2 linked regions of the Homo sapiens genome follow. The protein of the gene in region 1 purifies or fractionates together with the protein of each later gene. This does not show direct contact. Each region holds a gene or a part of one and is shown on either strand. Other genes may lie near its edges.

Evidence for each region. Proteins that work in one complex are often made in the same cells at the same time.
Region 2: the proteins of KCNS3 (region 1) and GOLIM4 purify together in Homo sapiens (affinity purification with mass spectrometry; 2 studies listed by BioGRID and IntAct, with this or other methods). This does not show direct contact.

What each region holds. Positions count from the first base shown.
Region 1 is NC_000002.12:17,877,008-17,880,753, reverse strand, and holds the start of KCNS3 (delayed-rectifier potassium channel regulatory subunit KCNS3), read right to left. Parts: upstream 2,088-3,746; 5' UTR 1,948-2,087; intron 1-1,947. UniProt on the Homo sapiens protein: Potassium channel regulatory subunit that modulates the delayed rectifier potassium channel activity of KCNB1 by namely slowing down the deactivation and inactivation time constants.
Region 2 is NC_000003.12:168,026,317-168,030,062, forward strand, and holds part of GOLIM4 (Golgi integral membrane protein 4), read right to left. Parts: intron 3,721-3,746; coding exon 3,464-3,720; intron 2,987-3,463; coding exon 2,907-2,986; coding exon of another isoform or gene 2,904-2,906; intron 1,522-2,903; coding exon 1,412-1,521; intron 1-1,411. UniProt on the Homo sapiens protein: Plays a role in endosome to Golgi protein trafficking; mediates protein transport along the late endosome-bypass pathway from the early endosome to the Golgi.

The DNA of each region.
Region 1 (3,746 bases):
AACTCAAGCTCCAGAGCTTTGGATTTTTAATATTATAATATTTCAGAACAGAACAAAGACTGCTTCTGACCTCCCAATTTGCCCTCATACACTTGACCAGCAAAACCTTAGCGTAGCTGCATTCATCAATGGCTCTATTCAGGCAATTATGGGTCAGACAAAAGATTCAATTAATACTGATCCCGCAAGTCTCCTTAGTATATTCACAACATGCTTTGGATTCAGAGTTCTATGGCACCTTCATATGACCTTCTCCGGATCCCAATATTGACAATTCCTAGTTCAGAAACGACAAACATAATATTAGAACAAGAGAAGAAGGGAAGCTGGTGAGAAAGAAAGAACAGACTAGACTGGGTGCAGAAATTATATCATCCATTTGCTGTCTGTCCCCGAGTGCATCCTGGGGCCTGGCCCATGGCGGGCTGGTTGGAAATGCATACTGAACGAGTCAATCTCCTCAAGAAGGTCACCACCCAGGTAAGAAGTGGAGCCTGCACATTACACCAAGTTCAGCTAGAGAATCAAAGCCACCTCTTCGGCTCCAGATATGCAGGGAAGACAAAGCACGAGGGCATATGCCTTCAGCTAAGAGATAGGTGCGTGCTTCCTGTTTACCTGGGCAGGTATTTGCAAATAGTCTAAGAAGGGGGGCAACTAGGAGTGACTTACACAGTTCCAAGTGAATGGTTACGCAAATCGCTTGAGTAAATACAGGGAAAGAAACAGGAAAGGCTTCTGAACTGTTTGTACTCATCTGCTCCAGTATTTTCAGAGGGTAGGGTGAAAGACAAAAAACCCGAACGAAGGCTCCGGGCCAACCACAAAGCTACTCTCCGGCAGGAACGTAAGGAACACCTACCGCCCCTCCCCCCACTTCACGCCTTGGCACCAAACCAGGGCCCCTGGGTCATTTTGGCAGGTGGAGGTAGCTCTTTGCTGTCCTCTGCCCCTGCTGCGGGCCACCCGAGTGAAGCTTTCGGCTCGGTCTCCCCAGACAAAACCGGGGGGAGACATCAAGAATGCAAAAGGTGCTCCTTTCTCCAAATGAACGAGAAGGGACAGAGCGGGGTTGGGGGTGCAGGACAAGCCCTGCAATGCGAAAGGCGCCCAGCCAGGCTCGCCGCGGCCCCTGCCGGCAAGACTGGCTCGCTTGCTAGCCAAGGTGCCTCAGGAGGTCGGGCAGCCACCCAGAAAGGCGCGAAAAAAAAAAGAGGAGTTCCTGACCCCGGGGTGACCCTTCCCCACCACTGCCACTGATCCAAACGCAGAGTCCGCAAGTGACTCCACACCTGCGCTGCAAGCCTCACGCCGTCCCCACCCAGGGCGCAGCGCTGCACGAGAGCAAGGGCCCTGGGTTCGCTCTTCCCTGCAACTGTCGCGGGGCGCCTAGCACAGCTGCAGGGCAAAGGGGAGGGGAGGAATGACAAAGAAGGCGGAGCAGACGGCCCGGGAAGCATTTACAAGCGCCAGGAAAGCGCCTCCTCTCGAGGAAGGGAAGGAACGGCTTCCCGGCCAAGGAAACGCCCCGGGGATGCCCCTACGCGAGGTGCCGCCTTTCTTCGGCTCATCGATTCTCCCGCCTCCAGGTGGTCCTCCCCCTGACCATAGCCCACCCCACTCCCCGAAAGCTGATCCTAAATACCTTCCCCGAGGCTTTCAAATCAACCCAGCCACCGCTTCAACAGCCCGCAGTTCACGCAACAGGCGGAGCCTTAGGGCTCCAGCGACGGCGGGCTCTGGGGACCAGAGGATGCGGGCGCCGCGGGCCAGACGCCCAGAAGGACGGAAAGTGCTCTGCGGCCGTAGACCCTCGGGGTCGTGCACCCGCGACCTGGACCACAGGAGACTGGGGCAGCAAAAGGTGGGGGAAGGCGCGGTAAAGTTGCAGGGTCGCCCGGAGAAGTCTCCGGAGCGCGCAGGGAGGTGGGGACGCCAGCCAGGTACCTGCAGGAGTCCGGACGCATCCAGCTAGCTCCGCTCTGCGACGCCGCCTGCCCGCGCTGCAGGGATCAGGCCTCGCGGCGCGGCCCCGCGCCTGCCGCCGCGGCGGCGAGGAGAGCGGGGTGGCCCGCGTCGGCCGGTCTGTCCGTCGGTCCCGCCCCGCTAGAGCGAGGCTCCCGGGAGCTGCGGGCGGGGCGGGGCCGGACGGGACGGGGCGGGGCCCGCCGCTCGGCCGCCGCCCCATTGGTCGCAGCTCCGCCAGCCCCTCGCTTCGGGCCCGCAGCCGGGCGCCCCGGGCCGAGGGCGCGGGCGGCTGAGGACTGCGGGGCTCCGACCGCCAGACAGGCGGACAGACCCATAGACCTAGATGCTGCCCTGCCGGCCGCGCGCCCCCGCCCAGGCCCAAGTGCAGAGTCACCCCGGAGCGGCAGGCGCTGTCCGGGTGGGACCAGGAGCGCGCCCCGCGCCTCCCACCTGCGCGCCCTCCTGGGCCGGAAGCGCCGTGGCCCTGCGGGAAAAAGATGACCTCCCCCGCGGCCCCGGCGGCTGGGGCAACCGCCTTTCTAAAGTCGCGGCCCAAGCGACACTTTGCTAATTTGCCTGGATTTCCTCAGGAAATCGCGAGGCCCAAACTTGTTTTAAAACAAAGTGCGAAGGAGAGTACATATAGCTCCAGTTCCTGCCAATGTTTGCCATCGGTCCCGCTGCCTGAAGACTCAGGCACAGTGCAGAACAAGATGCTTTGTCTTATTCCTCCACTCACCGAGTCAGAAGAGGTGCTTGGACATTTGCACCAAGCAGATGCGCCTCATATGTAGAAGAGGAACCAGTCGGGTCCCCTTTCGGAAGGACGAATGGAAGAGGAAGTCAGGGGACGATGCCTTCAGCCGACGTTGAGGAACAAACCAGGACCTCGGCGAGGACAGCGTGTGGTCCAGAAGGCATCGCTGGCCTCGCTGCACTGAGCGAGAGCGCTCAGTTAACAGCCAGGAGGAGAAATGGGACGCTTCGGGACCCACCCCCGCGCTCCCCCTCCCGCCCCCAAACTGCAGATTTTTAAGTTGTGCAGACGTGGAACAATTCCTCGGAGCCAGCTGCTCCAAGCTAAGGCGCCCAGTGTTCCCTGGGTTCCTACCCGCAGCATACGCCCTGCCAGCTGCCCCCAAGCCAGCACCCGCTGACCACTCACCTCAGGCAAGCACCTAGGAAGACGATGCAGATTCAAGCTCCAGACCTTGAGCCAAGCGCTGGGGAGGGAATGGGGGCAAAGAGATGGTGGAAAACACTTTCCTGAACTTACTGAATACCCTATGTTATGTGTGGGTTTTCTAATTGTTCTTTGCTTAATGAAAAACCCACGTTGGAAATCAGAAAAAGGCAGTAATCCTCACCGTATCTTGTGGGCTTCAAAGAGGAGGTTTTCCCCTTAAAGGGAGTTTTGGTCCAGAGGAGAGGCTAACAGCAGGCAGGAAGGGCAGAGGAAAAGATAAAGCCTAGGGTGGTCTTCCCCCTGAGGCCTGGAGCCCACCAAGCTCCAACAGTTTCATTTGGCTTCTGGGAAGCAAAGTACAGATGCATGTGTCTGCAGAGCACTGTTCTGAGCCATTTGTCCCTAATTCCATGGTTCTTTGGTTCCTCCAATCTTGTCTCCTCTCCTGTGGAAGAGGATCCAAAGCATTGGTCCACACTGCTATTTACAAGTGGCTGAAGAAGGTAACTTTCTTACATAGTTCATCTTTAGCATAAGCTCTAAGATTGTTCTAAAAATATATTTACATTTTATCAACACCTTAGAAGAATGC
Region 2 (3,746 bases), on another chromosome or scaffold:
AACATATTCTTTTCAGAAAAAAGTACCAAATATCTTTTGCAAACGTTCATAAAATTGACTAGCTCAACTCCGACCACGTAACAGGTATGAATTAGCAGGCACAGTTGTTACGTTCAAATAAAACAGAAAGAGAGGAACAAGTGGGATTAACCATTTCTAATTAAAAGGAAGAATGGTACAAAGGCCAATGTTTCCCAGCATGTTCCCCAAAACAAACAAACAGATGACAGGAAAGTAAAGGATCATATAGTCAAGAAATCAAAGCCTACAGCAGTTCCCAAACAAGTGACTGAAATGCCCTTCCTCCCACCCCATGCACATTTGCAGGCCTTTGTACACTTGCTTTCTTGCTCTCTCCTGGATAGTCTCTTGCTCTCTCATATGTTTCTGCTCTCAAGTATTAGCCTTTTCCTGAAAATATTTCAGGACTAGGTTCCCTGGAGCATATTTTCAGAAATCTTGATGCAAGGAATGCCAGGGAAAGGTGTTCTGCCACATCTCAGTGCAAGTTAAGTGGAAAAGCTGTTTCCAGCAAAAGGGCTTTAAGTAGCTAGCAGGATGACTTTCTTGATGATTAGCAAGGACATGGGTCCTCCTTTTAATCAGGGCTCATGTGACATAGCACAGACCGACTGTTATAAACATGGTAGTTGATCTATTAGCAAGAGATGACAGGGCAGCTAAAATAAGCTGTAAAAATCATCTACGCATACACGCAGGAACAGACTCACTAAACATTTGCTTGCTTCACTTGTAGGCAGGGCCAAGGATCTAGCCCACCCAGCTGAACTAGAGGTCTCAGTCTTTTTTGGTAAACACAAACAACAATGCTGGTTATTAGATGTCTACCTACTTATATTATAAATTTTCTGTACCATTGCATACCTGAACAACTCTTCATGTCTCAGACCACATATCCTTATCCATATATTTATTAAAATGGTCACTAGACTGCTAAGAGATTACAGAGAGTCACACAAATACCTAACACTCTAGCAGACTGCTCAACATGCTCAGGAAGGGTTAGTTTCCTTTCTCTGGTCCCATCTCCAACTTCCACACTTGCCTTTTATTCCTCCTAGCTTTCAGAGTTACTACATATTTCAGTGTCTCTCAGTTTTGCTTTTCTAGGTTTTAGTTTTATTAATCTAAAAGTCATCAGAAAAAAAAAATCCTGGTTTTGTTTTTTTTTTTCCCCCAGAGCAACTTTTAAACCAGCTCATCACATACACGTACACCATGGTTTACAGTTAAAAACACTGCCCATATATAATTATGCAAGCCATTTTCCTTCTGGGCTGAGGATATAACAGAAATATCTGGGGCTGAAGGCTGGCATCAGGCAAGTTTTCAACTCTCTTTCCCACCTTATGAGTTTACATGTGTCAGGGGCAGAAGAGAGGATACTTACATCTGCCTCAGATTCTGGGTCGGCTTCTCGGGGTCCTTGTTCACGAGGCTCATGTCTATTACCTGGATCTCCTTCTGCTTCATCTTGGTGCTGGTTGTCTCTTTCATAGGCTAGCAAATCAAAGGAACTAAAATCAGCCCAAAATGAATCAAACAGGATTTCCCTTTCAACTCAAAGAAAAGCCACCAGTGGACTTTTCTACAGACTACAATACCTCCACCTCTGTTAACTCAACATAAGGCCTATGTCCTGGCTTTTCTGAATAAGGTTATGTTCTCTTCACAGACTGTGTGTCTAGAGAGATGATATGGGTCAGACACTTTTCTTCTAAAATAAATATTTTTCACAGGAGCTGTAATTTTTCCCCCATATGCAAGAAAACAACAACAATCAAAACTCTCTCAATAAAAGAAAGCCCAGTTGATTGGACACTGCTGAAGAAATCAACTAATGTTTGATAATATCAGAGGAAGTAGCTGGGCTCCAAAAGAAGAAATTGATAGTTTCAGGAAATGCAAGGAAGAACTGCCCCATCTGTGGAGCTCAGAAACAAATATAGCCCATCACATGTTTTCTGATGTCATCACAGTAATGATGATGACCGCCACAGCCCAGAAACAGCACACATTCATACTCAGACATTTACTTGCTGCTTTTTGAAAAAATATTTAGATAAAGAGAATTGTATGAGCACAAAAAGAGAAGAACAAATCACTTTTTAAAACAAGTAAGATAGAAGAGGAAAGTTTAAGTATATGGAGTGTACTAAGCCTAGAGAAAATGATGATACGGGGTAACTTACCATCAGCCTTCAAGTGCACAAAGGGGTTTACTACATAGAGAAGAGGACAAGCCATTCTCTAGTCTTACTGATATGAGAACAAAAAAGCTTAAAGTGCCACATGGCGGACATAAGGAAAACAATTTCTTGACTGTAAGAGCTGTAAGATATCACAACGGGCTATTGAGGGAGGTTGTATGTAATCACTTTCTTTCTGACTTTTTAGAAAAAGATACACATCTAAGTGTTAGTGGTGCCAGAGAGACAGTAAGTTACATTCTGGTTCTATTATAACAGTAAGCAATATTTGATAAATTACATATTAAGTGCTTATCATAAATGAAAGCTACTATTGACTTAATTTGAAAACATTTTAAGGCAATGATGTGAGGACTTCCAAGGTAAGGAGAAAATGCAGATGTTTCCCAAAGCATAATAATCCTATAATAATTTGTCAGAAATATTATAAATATTTAGTATATAAAAAGCTTAAACTACAGGGAAAATGATAGAGAGGAAACAGATTATCTTGAGCATTTTTCACTACCAGCATGTACTGTTTAAGAGGATTAAGAAAAAGACATGATTCACAAACCTCCTTTGCACTTAGGTATGCATACAGCTCATTGATGTTATATAATATTGGCTCACTGATAATATACAATGTTATCAAGTAATTTATTAAAACATTCATCATCTAGGAAGTCTCACCACCTCCTTCCTCTCCTTGGATTCCCTGGTCCTCTGCTCCCTGAACGATATCATTATCCATAGCATCATAATGAGCTTGCTGCCTACAAGAGACACAAACATGATAAATCCAGTGGGACAAAATTCAGAGGCACAGTTTGACATAGGTCATTTATCTTTAAAGACAGTAATAAGTAATGTTTCTCAACATTTTTAAGAAGCCATGAAAAATTTTTAAAAACCTCTTATGTATGCAATTAGGTATAATAAAAATTCCAGATACACTTTCAAAAGGTATCTTAAAAAGATAAAATATCTTTTAAAGATAAAATAAAATAAAGTTGGCACAAAGCCTGCAAGGCTATTTGGAGACCTAACCTACCACTTTTGAGCAGAAAAAAAATATTATTTTTAAAATTAAATATTTGGTATTTAATTTTCAAGTAGCTGTCCTGCCTTGGCTATTTGAGCAATATGAGCCCCTTAACTTCATGAATCACAAATGCACAAAACTGTTTTTAATTTGCGTATGAAAACTGGAGCAGGGGCTGTCTTCGTTCATTAAGGAAGGGGAAGGCTACCGGAGCTGCTCCTGGTGCTGCGGCCGGCCCTCCTCAAGCTCAGCCTGCCTCTGCAGGGCCATCTCTCTTGCCACCTGCTGCTGCTGCTGTTCCTGCTGCCGTAGTAAGTGCCCCTGCAGCCTCTGCTGGTGCAAAGCTTCCTGGTGTTCCCGCAGCTGCTGGGCCTCCTCCACCTGCTGCACTGCCAGTCTCTGCTGTTCCAACTGTTCCTCATAGGGTGATTGGAATTTGATCATTGGCTTGGCTGAAGGGTACACCTAGGGTGAAAAAGAGTTGGTGCAGA